3 linked regions of the Homo sapiens genome follow. The protein of the gene in region 2 purifies or fractionates together with the protein of the main gene of each other region. This does not show direct contact. Each region holds a gene or a part of one and is shown on either strand. Other genes may lie near its edges.

The links.
Region 1: the proteins of SDF4 (region 2) and ACAD11 purify together in Homo sapiens (affinity purification with mass spectrometry; 4 studies listed by BioGRID and IntAct, with this or other methods). This does not show direct contact.
Region 3: the proteins of SDF4 (region 2) and MYO9B purify together in Homo sapiens (affinity purification with mass spectrometry; 3 studies listed by BioGRID and IntAct, with this or other methods). This does not show direct contact.

Annotation. Positions count from the first base shown.
Region 1 is NC_000003.12:132,576,202-132,579,947, forward strand, and holds part of ACAD11 (acyl-CoA dehydrogenase family member 11), read right to left. Parts: intron 3,358-3,746; coding exon 3,291-3,357; exon of another isoform or gene 2,681-3,290; coding exon 2,595-2,680; intron 815-2,594; coding exon 743-814; intron 1-742. UniProt on the Homo sapiens protein: Acyl-CoA dehydrogenase, that exhibits maximal activity towards saturated C22-CoA.
Region 2 is NC_000001.11:1,218,355-1,222,100, forward strand, and holds part of SDF4 (45 kDa calcium-binding protein isoform 2 precursor), read right to left. Parts: intron 2,377-3,746; coding exon of another isoform or gene 2,345-2,376; exon of another isoform or gene 580-2,344; intron 574-579; coding exon 415-573; intron 280-414; coding exon 104-279; intron 1-103. UniProt on the Homo sapiens protein: May regulate calcium-dependent activities in the endoplasmic reticulum lumen or post-ER compartment. Isoform 5 may be involved in the exocytosis of zymogens by pancreatic acini.
Region 3 is NC_000019.10:17,074,208-17,077,953, reverse strand, and holds the start of MYO9B (unconventional myosin-IXb), read right to left. Parts: upstream 2,178-3,746; 5' UTR 2,080-2,177; intron 1-2,079. Other genes in the region: HAUS8 (HAUS augmin-like complex subunit 8), read left to right, coding at 2,532-2,560. UniProt on the Homo sapiens protein: Myosins are actin-based motor molecules with ATPase activity. Unconventional myosins serve in intracellular movements. Binds actin with high affinity both in the absence and presence of ATP and its mechanochemical activity is inhibited by calcium ions.

The sequences.
Region 1 (3,746 bases), on a different chromosome or scaffold from region 2:
AAGTTGGAATAACACATAGTCCCTGTACTAGGAGTTTAGAATCCAGAAGAGTGGGTAAGGGTAAGAGATACAGAGAGAAACAAAGGCAAAGGAAGAAGAGATTTTCTGTTCATCATTATAACCTCAGGGCCTGGCAGGTATCAGGGGCCTGGTGAATGGATGGGATGAACACAAAAACATTCCTGGAAGAGGTGGTATTCTAGATGTTCTTTGAAAGGGATATAGTATTCTAATAAGCAAGAGGATGGCATACAGTGTTCAAAGTTATTTATGCTTCTAACTTATATCTAATACTTGAATTCATAAAGTACTGAGGTTTTCTTAAAACAAATAGAGGCCTACAGATCATGTTCTAGGAGAAAGTGTATTGCTCTGAATTATATAATTTTCATATTATCTTTTCAATTGATGTGATATAGAAAACCACATCCAACACTTAAATAAAACCTCACCATTCCATGTAAGAAAATCCGCCAAACAGAAAACTTTCCCTTGACAAATGGAGTAAACAAGAAGGGAAAGTATTAGGTTGGTGCAAAAGTAATTGCGGCTTTTGCCAAAAACTGCAATTACCTTGGTGCAAAAGTAATTGCAGTTCAAAAACCGCAATAACTTTTGCACGAACCTAATATCTAAATCAAGGTAGACTTCAGGTCTAAATCTGGAAAGACTTATCTTTTCCAGATTTAGAGCTGAAATATTAATGTACAATACTGAAGAATCATTTCCAAATTCAACTCACCTAGTATTAGATTTGTGGCAGGAACTCGCACTTGATTAAAATGGATCTCAAAATGTCCTCCATGAAAATTATCTATAAAATAGAAAATAAAATTTAGAGCAAAAGGAGTTGACTAAAAAAGAGTCACATATTCTTAATCTGCTGAAATATAATTACTTGAAGAAAATAGGATTTCAAAGATCCATATGGCATGAACATTCTGAGGTAAGCCTCAGCCCTGAACCCCAGGACCCAGCAGCCCAGAAAACTCATCAACTGTTCAAGAAGAGAAACCCTTTGATCCAGATGTTTTCTAATTCATTCTCTGAAGTACAATTTCAGAGAGCTAGGAAAAAGGAAGACCAGGCTCCATAGATCCAGCCAGAGTATTTTATTTGTTTTATTATTGCTGCTTCTTTGAAATATTTTACATATGGGGTTCCAAACAATTTGCATGGAAAAAAGTTTCAATGTTTCAAAAATTAAAAATGAGTAATGTAATCCATGTTTCTTATTTTATCATTGTGGAAACCAACGCCTAAAGATGACAGGGGCCTGCTTGAGGGGAAAGAGCAGGCTTGGCATTAGTGATGATACAGAAACTAGACCTTCAGGTAGGTTTACTCCCAGTCTAGACTTGTTCCACTGTGTGTTCGTCTCTTGAAAATACTGGCATTTGAAACACTGAGGCCAGGAACACGTTCACATTTTATCTTTGCATCACCCCTTCTCCCTGCCAAGTTTTAGAGATAATCTCATGCTAACTCTACACCCTTTTCCTGTCAGAGGAGACAATAATCAGCCTTCTCCACACTGTTTCTTTTGGCCCTGGACACAGGGAGTTGGAGAGGTGCTAGTAAAGTTTTCATACTGAATAATCAAATGTAGCCTCTGCAATGGAAATTATTTGCAGCTCAACTATATTATAAACGCATTTTTGGTATCTTTGCGGCCGTTTCGCTGCAACCCAACAATTTCCTACATGCAATTTTCTCCAGCAAGCTTGCTCATCCCATCTTGCCACCTATGCTTACCCTGTGGGTATACTCTACAGCTGCATCTTAACTGATAAGTGATTCTATAAAACTGCAAGTCTTATATCTGCCACTTGAACATATTCATTAGTCATATTCAATGATAAAAAGAAAGCCAGGGGCTGGGCCCGGTGGCTCATACCTATAATCCCAGCACTTTGGGAGGCCGAGGAGGGTGGATTACCTGAGGTCAGGAGTTCGAGACCAGCCTGGCCAACATGGTGAAAGCCCGTCTCTACTAAAAATACAAAAATTAGCTGGGCATGGTGGCTAAGCAAATACTTGCTGAGAGGGTGATCTTAGCAAATATTTATTGTACACAATGAACACGTGCCACAGTAGGTGGCAGGAAACAAATGGATCTTTGCTTCTTAGAAGTCCCACCCAAGGGCAGAGGAAGGAAAATTTTGCACTCAAATAAGTCAAAAACTCATTGCTTTTTAACAGTTCTTGTAAGTTGATTGATTAAGAGGGCTAAAATTGGAGATAAAAATAATTTTATTGTGGATTATCTGTGCATTAATCCATTTTTATGAATGACAGAGAAAAGACTGGTAGTGTTGCTCTTCCTTAAATACAATCTGCCCTTTCCCAAAAAGGCAGAATTTATATTCTATAAATTCTATAATTTATATAATTATAAATTACATAAATGCTATACTATTTCTTTTTATTGGCTCTACTCTGAACTCCACCAGCATTTATATTAAGACAGTTGTCACAGACAAAGGAATATCTAAGAATCTATCTTATGCATTAAAATGCTATTGCCTTCAATGTTACTGCATATTCTAGCCTTCCTGCTTGCTAATGCATGGTCATATTTATTGGATACCTACCTGTGTAGCCAAAAACTGACAAAGGCCTTATTATTTTTACTCCAGGTGTGTTCATGGGAACAAGAATCATGCTGTGCTGTTTGTGTCTAGTCAAAAGAAAAATTGTATTAGAAAAAGTTTGCTAAGAAGAAAAATAAAACAGATAATAAGCAGAATCACAATTGTCTTTTTGATGTTTTCATGTAGTCATGTAAGCAGTGATGACTGGAATGGGAACTGTGTAAAAGACGTACACCAACATAGTCTGATGCAGGCTGTGATCTGGAACAGAAACAATGATTTGAAAATAAATGAGTTGTTTGATTGAAGCTTCTCACTGCTCAACAATGGTAACTGGGAACTTATATATATAATTAAACATTTCAAGATTATTGCCTTTGATCTAAACATCTAATCACTTCATTACACAGGTCTGAAAAAATTTGTCTGATAATTTAATCCAAACAGCTTTGATAATTTAGCAACACTTTCTAATACTGAAAATTCCACAGCGAAGAATGTTCAGCAATACTCCCTATAATGTTTTCCAAAAACACCTGTTAGAAAATACTTGTGAAATACAAATATATGACATTTACTCTCATATCTTACATTATGATTTGTGAGTCCAAACAGTGAATTTTAAGTAAATTACCTAGATAGGAGGAAGACTGGCTCATTCCTACACAGGTTTCTCAATCAGAATTGTTTAATTACCTGGAGAGAGAAGTATTTTGAGTTCTTCCCAAAACAATTGCAATTTTGCACTTGGGATTCCCAGCTCCTAAAACCAAGGGGAACACAAGCAGATTATAAAAGGAAATTTCTAGTTTGACATTTCACCTTGAAGGTTCTAATCCTTCCCACTTTACCTATGTCAGAAAACAAATAGAGAGAACATTCCTGATTCATTAAGATAATAATTCTTTTGTAACACTCTATATCATCCAAGAAAAATGATTAGGCAAGGCCAAGAATGGACCCCATCAATGAAAGCTGCTACACAAAAATAACCAGAAGTCAAAGCAGCATGAAAGAACTGCCACCTCTCCCATTTACACCATTTCAGACATCAGCATGCTAGAAAAGCTGAGAAATTTTATATGTCTAATATAATATTTTATATGTCAACGTATATGAGGCTGTGATCCCACTTTCAATAAGCCTGGTTCT
Region 2 (3,746 bases):
CAGACACCAGCACAGCTTCCTGCCTCAGGCCCAGATCCACCAGCCCCTCCCGCCACAGCACCTCGCAGGGCCGGCTCCGGGACACGGCTGCGCCAGGGCTCACCTCCAGCTCCTCGGCGGTCACGATGCCGTCGTGGTTGGAGTCAATGAGCTCCTCAAACTCCTTTTTTCTGTCTTTCACCCAGTTGTCGTCAATGTCCTGGCCCTGCTGGTTCTCCACGGTGCCCACGGGCAGGGAGATGAACTCGGGCACAGAGAGCTGCTTGTCACCGTCCTGGTCTGCGAGACGGGAATGGGTCAGCCCACACCCAGGCTGGGGCTCCCGCAGGACCTGCCCCGACCTCCCGACGATGCCCGGCCCCTGCCAGTCGGTCCTGGGTCCTGGCGTGCCGGCCAGGCTGGACCCAGCCTCACCCAGGTCCCGGACGATCTCCTTCACCATGAACCTGAGCATTCCCCGGCTGTGCTCGGGGTGGAGGAACGACAGGAACTCCTCCTCCGTCAGCAGCAGGTCTGCAGGGGGGCTGTCCGCCTGGTACCAGCGGTCCTTCAGGTTCTCCAGGACTTCCTGTGCTGAGAGGGGCGCAGCCTGTGGGTATCGAGGCCGACAGACGCCAGCACGCAAATCCAGAAAGTTCCGAGAGGTGCTGCCTGAACTCGAGGGACACAGCCACCCGCGAGACCGGGGCCCCACCCTCCAGGATTCACACGTCCCCAGAACATGGCCCAGCCCCTAAGACACAGCCTGGACCCCCGCCAAGACATAACCCAGAGCCTCCCACAGGCCTGATCCCCAAAGGCATAGCTTGGACCCCTCCACACAGCCCGGACTCCCCAAGACAGCCTGGACCCCCCCCTGCCCCAGACCCCCAATACATGGATGGCCCTGACTCCCCACAGACACAGCCCAGACCCCCAGGACATGGCCTGGACCCCCCACACAGCCCAGACCTCTCAAGACATGATCCAGAACCTCCCCATGGCCCAGACCACCCCAGGACACAGCTCAGAGCCCCTCATGCCTGGGACCCCTCAGGATGGGCCTGGGCCCCACCCCCCACACCCGCGCCTGCCCCTCTGGAGGAGCGGAATCACCCTGAAGGCTGACGTGCGCACGGCGCCGCGGGGCGAAGGACTCACTGCCCTTTTCCGTTTCCTTCACGTGTGACGTCACAGGGAGGAAAACACAGTTTCTAGAAATGACTGAGACTGGGGCTGAGCAGAGCTTCCCAGGAACCCTCCCAGCCGGGACACGGCACTGCCTCTGGGTGTGTGGCCCCCGCTCTCCTGCCGTGCCCACCCGGCCCCAACGGGCCCTCACCCCGAGGTCCCCACACATCCCAAGGACCCAAGCCACCCTGGGTCTCCAGGACAGAAACACCACCTCCTGCCCCATCTTGGGGCTCACTGCAGTCAGTGGCCAAGTCCAGTGTTGAGGCCCACACTCAGCCCCCTGCACGTGAGGCCCGACTCTGCCCTGGCCGAAGCCCCTGCCACAAGCCCGGCAGCCTCTGCGTCGCGCTCACTGCGGGATGAGGCCCAGCTGCCGTCCCATCTTATCCCTTTCTGAACAACCTCCATCTACACGACCGGTTCACTTAAAGGAAGACAGGAGTGACGGGGCTGTGGTTCCTGGGGCACCCCTCCCTGTCTGCTCCACCGCAGCTCCTGGGATGGATGGACGGGGCCAAACTGAGACCCATCCAGGAGAGGCACAGACGCCCCAGACAGGCCGGCCGAGAGACGCTTTCTCCAGCACAGGATTCTCACAGCCGCCGCCGAGCCCCAGCACCAACCTCAGGCTGGTGAAGAAGCCTTGAGTCCCAGTCCCTCCCCACGAGCCGGGCCTCTGCTGTTAGGGAAGGATCTGGAGAGACCCTCCTGGATCAGGGAGAGTCAACGACTGCTGTCCCTGTGAGAAGAGGACGCAGACCCAGAGAGAGGCAGCGATGGAGGCGGGGGAAGGGAGTGATGCCCGCCTGCCACGCCTTCACCGCGGTCCCCAGAATCAGGTCTGAGGCGCGAGGACAGCAGCCCCCGGACTCACGCGGTGACCCTCGCAGGAGCCATGCAGGGAGGGGTGGGAGGTCGCAGGAGTGACGCCTGCCAGCGCTTCCCAGGCCCCTCCTCCAGGACCCGGCAGCTGCTCTTCCTGAGCCAGAAACCAAATACCCAAAGAGGTCGGGGGGTCCTAGGCACCCTGAGGTCGGGGAGGCCAAGACGGATCGGACACGGGTGGGCAGGGAACAGCACCTCAGCATGCATGGGGACCCCCAAAACGCAGAGTGAATTCTAAACACACCTCTGCTGAGTCCCAAAGGTAGACGGAGGCTTCACAGAAATGTCACAGAGCTCTAGGTCCAGGTGGGCCATGTCCTGGGCAGAAAAGACCCAAATAAAGTGGCACCAAGGAAAGACAGACACAATCAGAGTTGGGGGGCGGGCACGGGCAAGGCCTCCTGCCCCAAGCACATCGCCAACAGGCCGGACCAACGGGATGAAGCTTAAAGACGCAGTCAGGACAGCAGGGAACGCGGGACCGGGGTGGAGGCACGAACCGTGTGTGGGGAGGAAAATGTAAACCACTCTTTTGGAAAGGAAGTAATAACGTCCAATTTGGCCGGGCACTGGGGCTTGTGCCTGTAATCCCGGCATGCTGGGAGGCTGCGGCAGGCAGATCCCTTTAGCCCAGGACTTTGAGACCAGCCTGGGCAACACAGGGAGATCCTCTTACTTTTAGTTTTTTTAATGTCCAATTTGCAGGATTTAGAACGGACAGGACCAAACTCCAGATAAGAGTACGTGAACTGGGAAAAGAGCAGGCAGAGCCAACAGGCTCAAAAGTCTCCGCGTCATTCTAGAAGGTCAAGGCCAGGCACAGGGGCTCATGCCTGCAACCCCAGGATGGGGAGAGGCCAAGGCAGGCGGGTCACTCGCGCCTGCAACCCCAGGACGGGGGGAGGCCGAGCGGGTCACTTGAACCCTCTGAAATCCAAGAGTTTGAGACCTACCTAGGCAACATGGGGAGACCTTGTGTCTACAAAATATATGTTTTTGAATCAGCTGGGCATGGTGGCACACACTGGTGGTCCCAGTCACTCAGGAGGCCGCCCCCATGGGGGCTGGTCACATGATATGGGCCGTTCCTGGCAGGAACGTATCTTACACCTTTATTTTTCTGTCCTCCAAGGAGGATAGATTGAGCCCAGGATGTGGAGGCTACAGGTGAGCTGAGATCGCACCACTGCACTCCAGCCTGGGCAACAGTGAGGCCCTCACTCTTAAACAATTAAAAATTAAAAATTAAAAAAAGAAAGAGGCTAAGACTAGGCGCAGTGGCTCACGCCTATAATCCCAGCACTTTGGGAGACTGCAGTAGGCGGATGACTTAAGTCCAAGAGTTTGAGACCAACCCGGCCAACACGGCAGAATCTATCCGTACAAAAAATACAAAAATTAGCCAGGCGCGGTGATGGTGCCTGTGGTCCCAGCTTCTGAGGTAGGAGGATCGCCTGAGCCCTGGAAGGTACAGCTGCAGGGAGCCGAGACTGCACCACTGCACTGCAGGCTGGGTAGCAGAGTGAGACCGTCTCATGAAAAAAGAAAGAAGAGGTGGTTTGCCTTGAGACTCTGGTGAGGAAATGTGTGTTACTGATAAGTTAAGCAGGCACAAAAAATAAAGGTGTAAGATACACCCAGCCTGCCAGGAGCAGCCCCGTATCACGTGACCAGTCCCGTGGGCGACA
Region 3 (3,746 bases), on a different chromosome or scaffold from region 2:
ACTGCCTCGGGATTTCCAGAAATTTGCAGTTTCCAAAGCTTTGGGAATAGGTGCAATGTGCAAAAGCACCTTCAACACCGCAATTTTCTATTTGGACGATGAAGAAGCGGTTGAAAAAAAATCATTTTTGGATACAAACTGTCGAATGGAAAACGGAATAAAAGTAGGATCATCGCAGCCAGGAATGGAGAGTGGGGGTGCTGTGAGGAGTTCAAGGCCGGGAGCTGGGGGACATGGACTGGAGACAAGACGGTGATGAGAAGAGTTGGGTTTCAAGGTTGAAAAACGCTGATGGAGGTCAATTCATTCATTTTGCAGGTGAGAGGTCAGAAACAGGCACAGAGACTTGACCAAAGCCAGGATCTCCAACACAGTGCTCCCCCCACAAGACCCTGCTTGGCCATTCTCTAGCGGCAGGGAAGAGGCGATTGCAGGGCTGCGGGATCAGAAGATCCCGGTCCTGTTCTGTAGGCCAGTGCAAGCCTACAGTTCAATGTTTGCAGGAGGCATGACTGTGGGCTGTCACTGCATGTCCTGGGGCAAGCCAGGCCAAAGCCACCTTTCCTAAAGGCCAGGATATTCTGGAAGTGAAGGGGGTGCTTATCTTTCTGTGGCCCTCTTTATATTCCAGCTATCCGGGTTCATCTCCTGAATGAGCTATAAACTAAACATAAGCTGGGGTTCCCCAGCCCTTCTGGCAGATCCCAGATAAAGATCCCTACAGTTGGGAAAGGGGAGAAATGAATGCCAATCAAAAGCACCCTGCACAAAGTCCCTGCCAGGGCCACAAGAGCCAGGCCTGTCAGATGTGAATAACTTTCCTGTAGCCCAGGTCACCTCCGGCTGCTCCTGGACACCTTAAGATTCTGAAGACTCCAACATCAAAAAACAAACCGAGTTGGGACTCTCTGGCTGGAAAGTGTCCCCACGGGCTCCCACCTCAGACAAAGAGGCAGAGAAGCCATCCCTTAAAGACCCCTGGCCTCCAGGGTGCCCAGGAAAGAAAGGAGGGCTCGTGGCTGTCGTGCCTCTCCAGGGCTGAGCTCAGAGCAACCGGGGGACAGATTTCCTGTATGTCGTTTTACCCATTTAAGTCCAAGGATGCAGCTCTGCGGAGGTGGCGACAGTCCTGTACATGAGGGTGCATGCACACTCCCTCCTGAAACACAGTTCCGGCCCCACAACCGGCCCTGAGGTCCCTTCCTTGGATCCAGGGAATCCCAGAATCCTGCTAGTCCTGTCTTAAGGGGAGGGTGGTGAAGTTTCCAAGACGAGGACACTGGCACAGAGGGTGTTGGGACTCGTCCCAGGTCACCCAGCTGTTAAGTGTGAAGTCAGGAGGGACACGAATCAAGAGGGGAGGGTGGGGGGACGGAATCTCCAGGGGCTGCATCTCAACATCTATCTGCACGGGGCCACTCTAACCCCTTCCTTCTCTTCCCTCCTCTCCGGGCCCTCCCTCCCTAAGCCTACCCTCAGTTCTTACCGTGACTTCTACTCCGTTTACTTCCCTTCCAGCTCCCATTTCCCCGCTTCCCAATAGCCGGCTGCCGCATCAGTTAGTTCAGAACCCCCCGCATTTACTGAGCGCCCACTGGGGGCCAGGCGCCGCCCTCTTCTCAGACACCCTTCCTTCAATCGCGCGGGCAGACGTCCCCAGATCGGTCTCGCACCCCTTCCCCTCAACCGCACCCCGGCTGTCCCGCCCCTGGCCTTGCCCACTCCCCCAGCCTGGGCCTCTCGTTCCCGCCTCCGTGCCTCCCCACAACGCCGTTTCCTGCGACCCCCCAATTACCACTTAAGCCACGTCCTCTTCAGAGAAGCTGCTCAAAGCCACAAGACTCACCCCCCCCACGCCCTCGAACTCCCTCACCAGCTCCATCCCCATCCACTTTCTCCTTCACCGTCTCGCTTCCACCTCATCCCCAGCAATCTCTCCAAGACCCCCAGGCTCGTTCCCGCCCCCTCGACCCCTGCCGTCGCGTCCCCCATCAGCCCTCAGCTCCGTCCCTCTTCTGCGCAGCCCCCAAAGGCAGGCTTCGAGCTCGAGTCGCCAACCCGAGGCTGCCTGGTACTCACCTGGCCTCGGCCGCCGCGCGCCGCCGGTCCCGGGCCGGGTCCCCGGCCGGACGACCGCCTGCCAGCCCGCCGCTGCTCGAGCCGCTCCGCCCCGCCGCGCCCGCCGCTCCCCCGCGCGCTCCCGCTTCCGGGTTCCGGAGAGGCGGGGACGGGGGCGTGACGCCAGCGCTCCTAGGGGCGGGGCATCGCGAAAAGCCCCGCCCCTACTGTCCGACAGATCAGGTCCCACCCACCGCCCCTACCCACTACCGCCGATGGTGGGCGAGACCAAGTGCGAGGGGAGGACAGGCGAAGCGCGCGTCTGGGGCCGCGCTCTCCACACTTAGCCGGCGCTGCCTCACGCCTCGCAGCCACCCCTCCTGCGTCTCCACAAATGGTCCGACCCGCAAGCAAGGGGGCGGGTCCGGCTTTGAAAAGCCGGCGGGTCGGGCCTTGAGGTGGAAGGCGGGAAAATGGCGGATTCCTCGGGGCGAGGCGCTGGGTGAGTTGGGGCTTCCGCAGGTCTGGATTTGTAGACGCCATAGGGCTGGAGAGGATGGGCAGCGGAGGTGGGGAGTTAGGACCCTCGGGGTGAGTTCGGGTTCGACCCCGCCAGGAACTGCGCGGGCCCCTGAAGACCCCGATGGCGTGCTGCCTCTGCGCATGCTCCGGAGCGCTGACACCCGACCGGCCCTGAGTTCCGCGTCCTCGGCTGGGACGCTGGGCGACCTCCGGCAAGCGGCCTGACCGCCCAGTGCCTCGCTTTCCTCCGCTACGAAATGGGGCCGATGACGCAGCTCAACCTCGTAGGCGTCGCGTGAGGCTGAAACGCGCTTAGATCGGCGCCTGGGTCTTTACTGTGATGTCGCTCTTGGAATTATCGTTATGCAGTGAACAAGTGTTGGGCGACCAAAGTGTCCCCTTTAATCCTCCCACGCGCTTTATTCTGTGCTCCCAGTTTACTGAGGAGATGATGGAGACCCAGGGAGGGGAAGTGACTTGCCTAGGGTAACACACCATGAACAAGAAAGAAGTTGAATACTGACCGAGAGCTAGGCATGAATGATCATGAGGCTATATTTGTCTAGTTTTGTTAATTCTGCCAGTGTTGATTGTGCCAGGTGCAAACTGAAGTGAAATTGGCCAGCAAGAGGAATCACTCCACCGCCCCTTGCCGTAACCGATAGATTGACAGTAGCACCTCCCAGGTACAGGTGCAGTAGCTGAGGCTCGCACAGGTTGTAGGGACCCCCCTCAGGTCGCAGCAGGTTCACCCAGGAGCCCATTCGGTTTGAGGCCACAGCCCTAGCACAGTCCCCAGAGGGAGTCTGTGCTCTTGTCTCTTTCTGGCTGTGAGACTGCCCCGGGGGTGACCTATGTAAAACCTGTGCGTCTTTGTTTTGCAGCGACGAAAAAGCAGGTGTGAACAGTTAGGAAGCTGTCGGGTTAGGAGGAGCCTACGGGCGAGCGCAGCTGCTGGCACCTGGCGAACATTTGCTAAGTTGCCTCTCCCCACGGTGGCCTGGAAGTGTCCCCAACATTGTCTGGGTCTCACTTTGGGGTCCTGGGAGCCTGCTTCAGAGGAGGTGGCCGCAGGGACCAGTGGAGCCGCCTTTGGTGATGGGAGCAGGAGTTACAGTGCCCTGGCCTTGGCCCTGCCCCTCCACTTGCCCATCCACTTGCCCCTC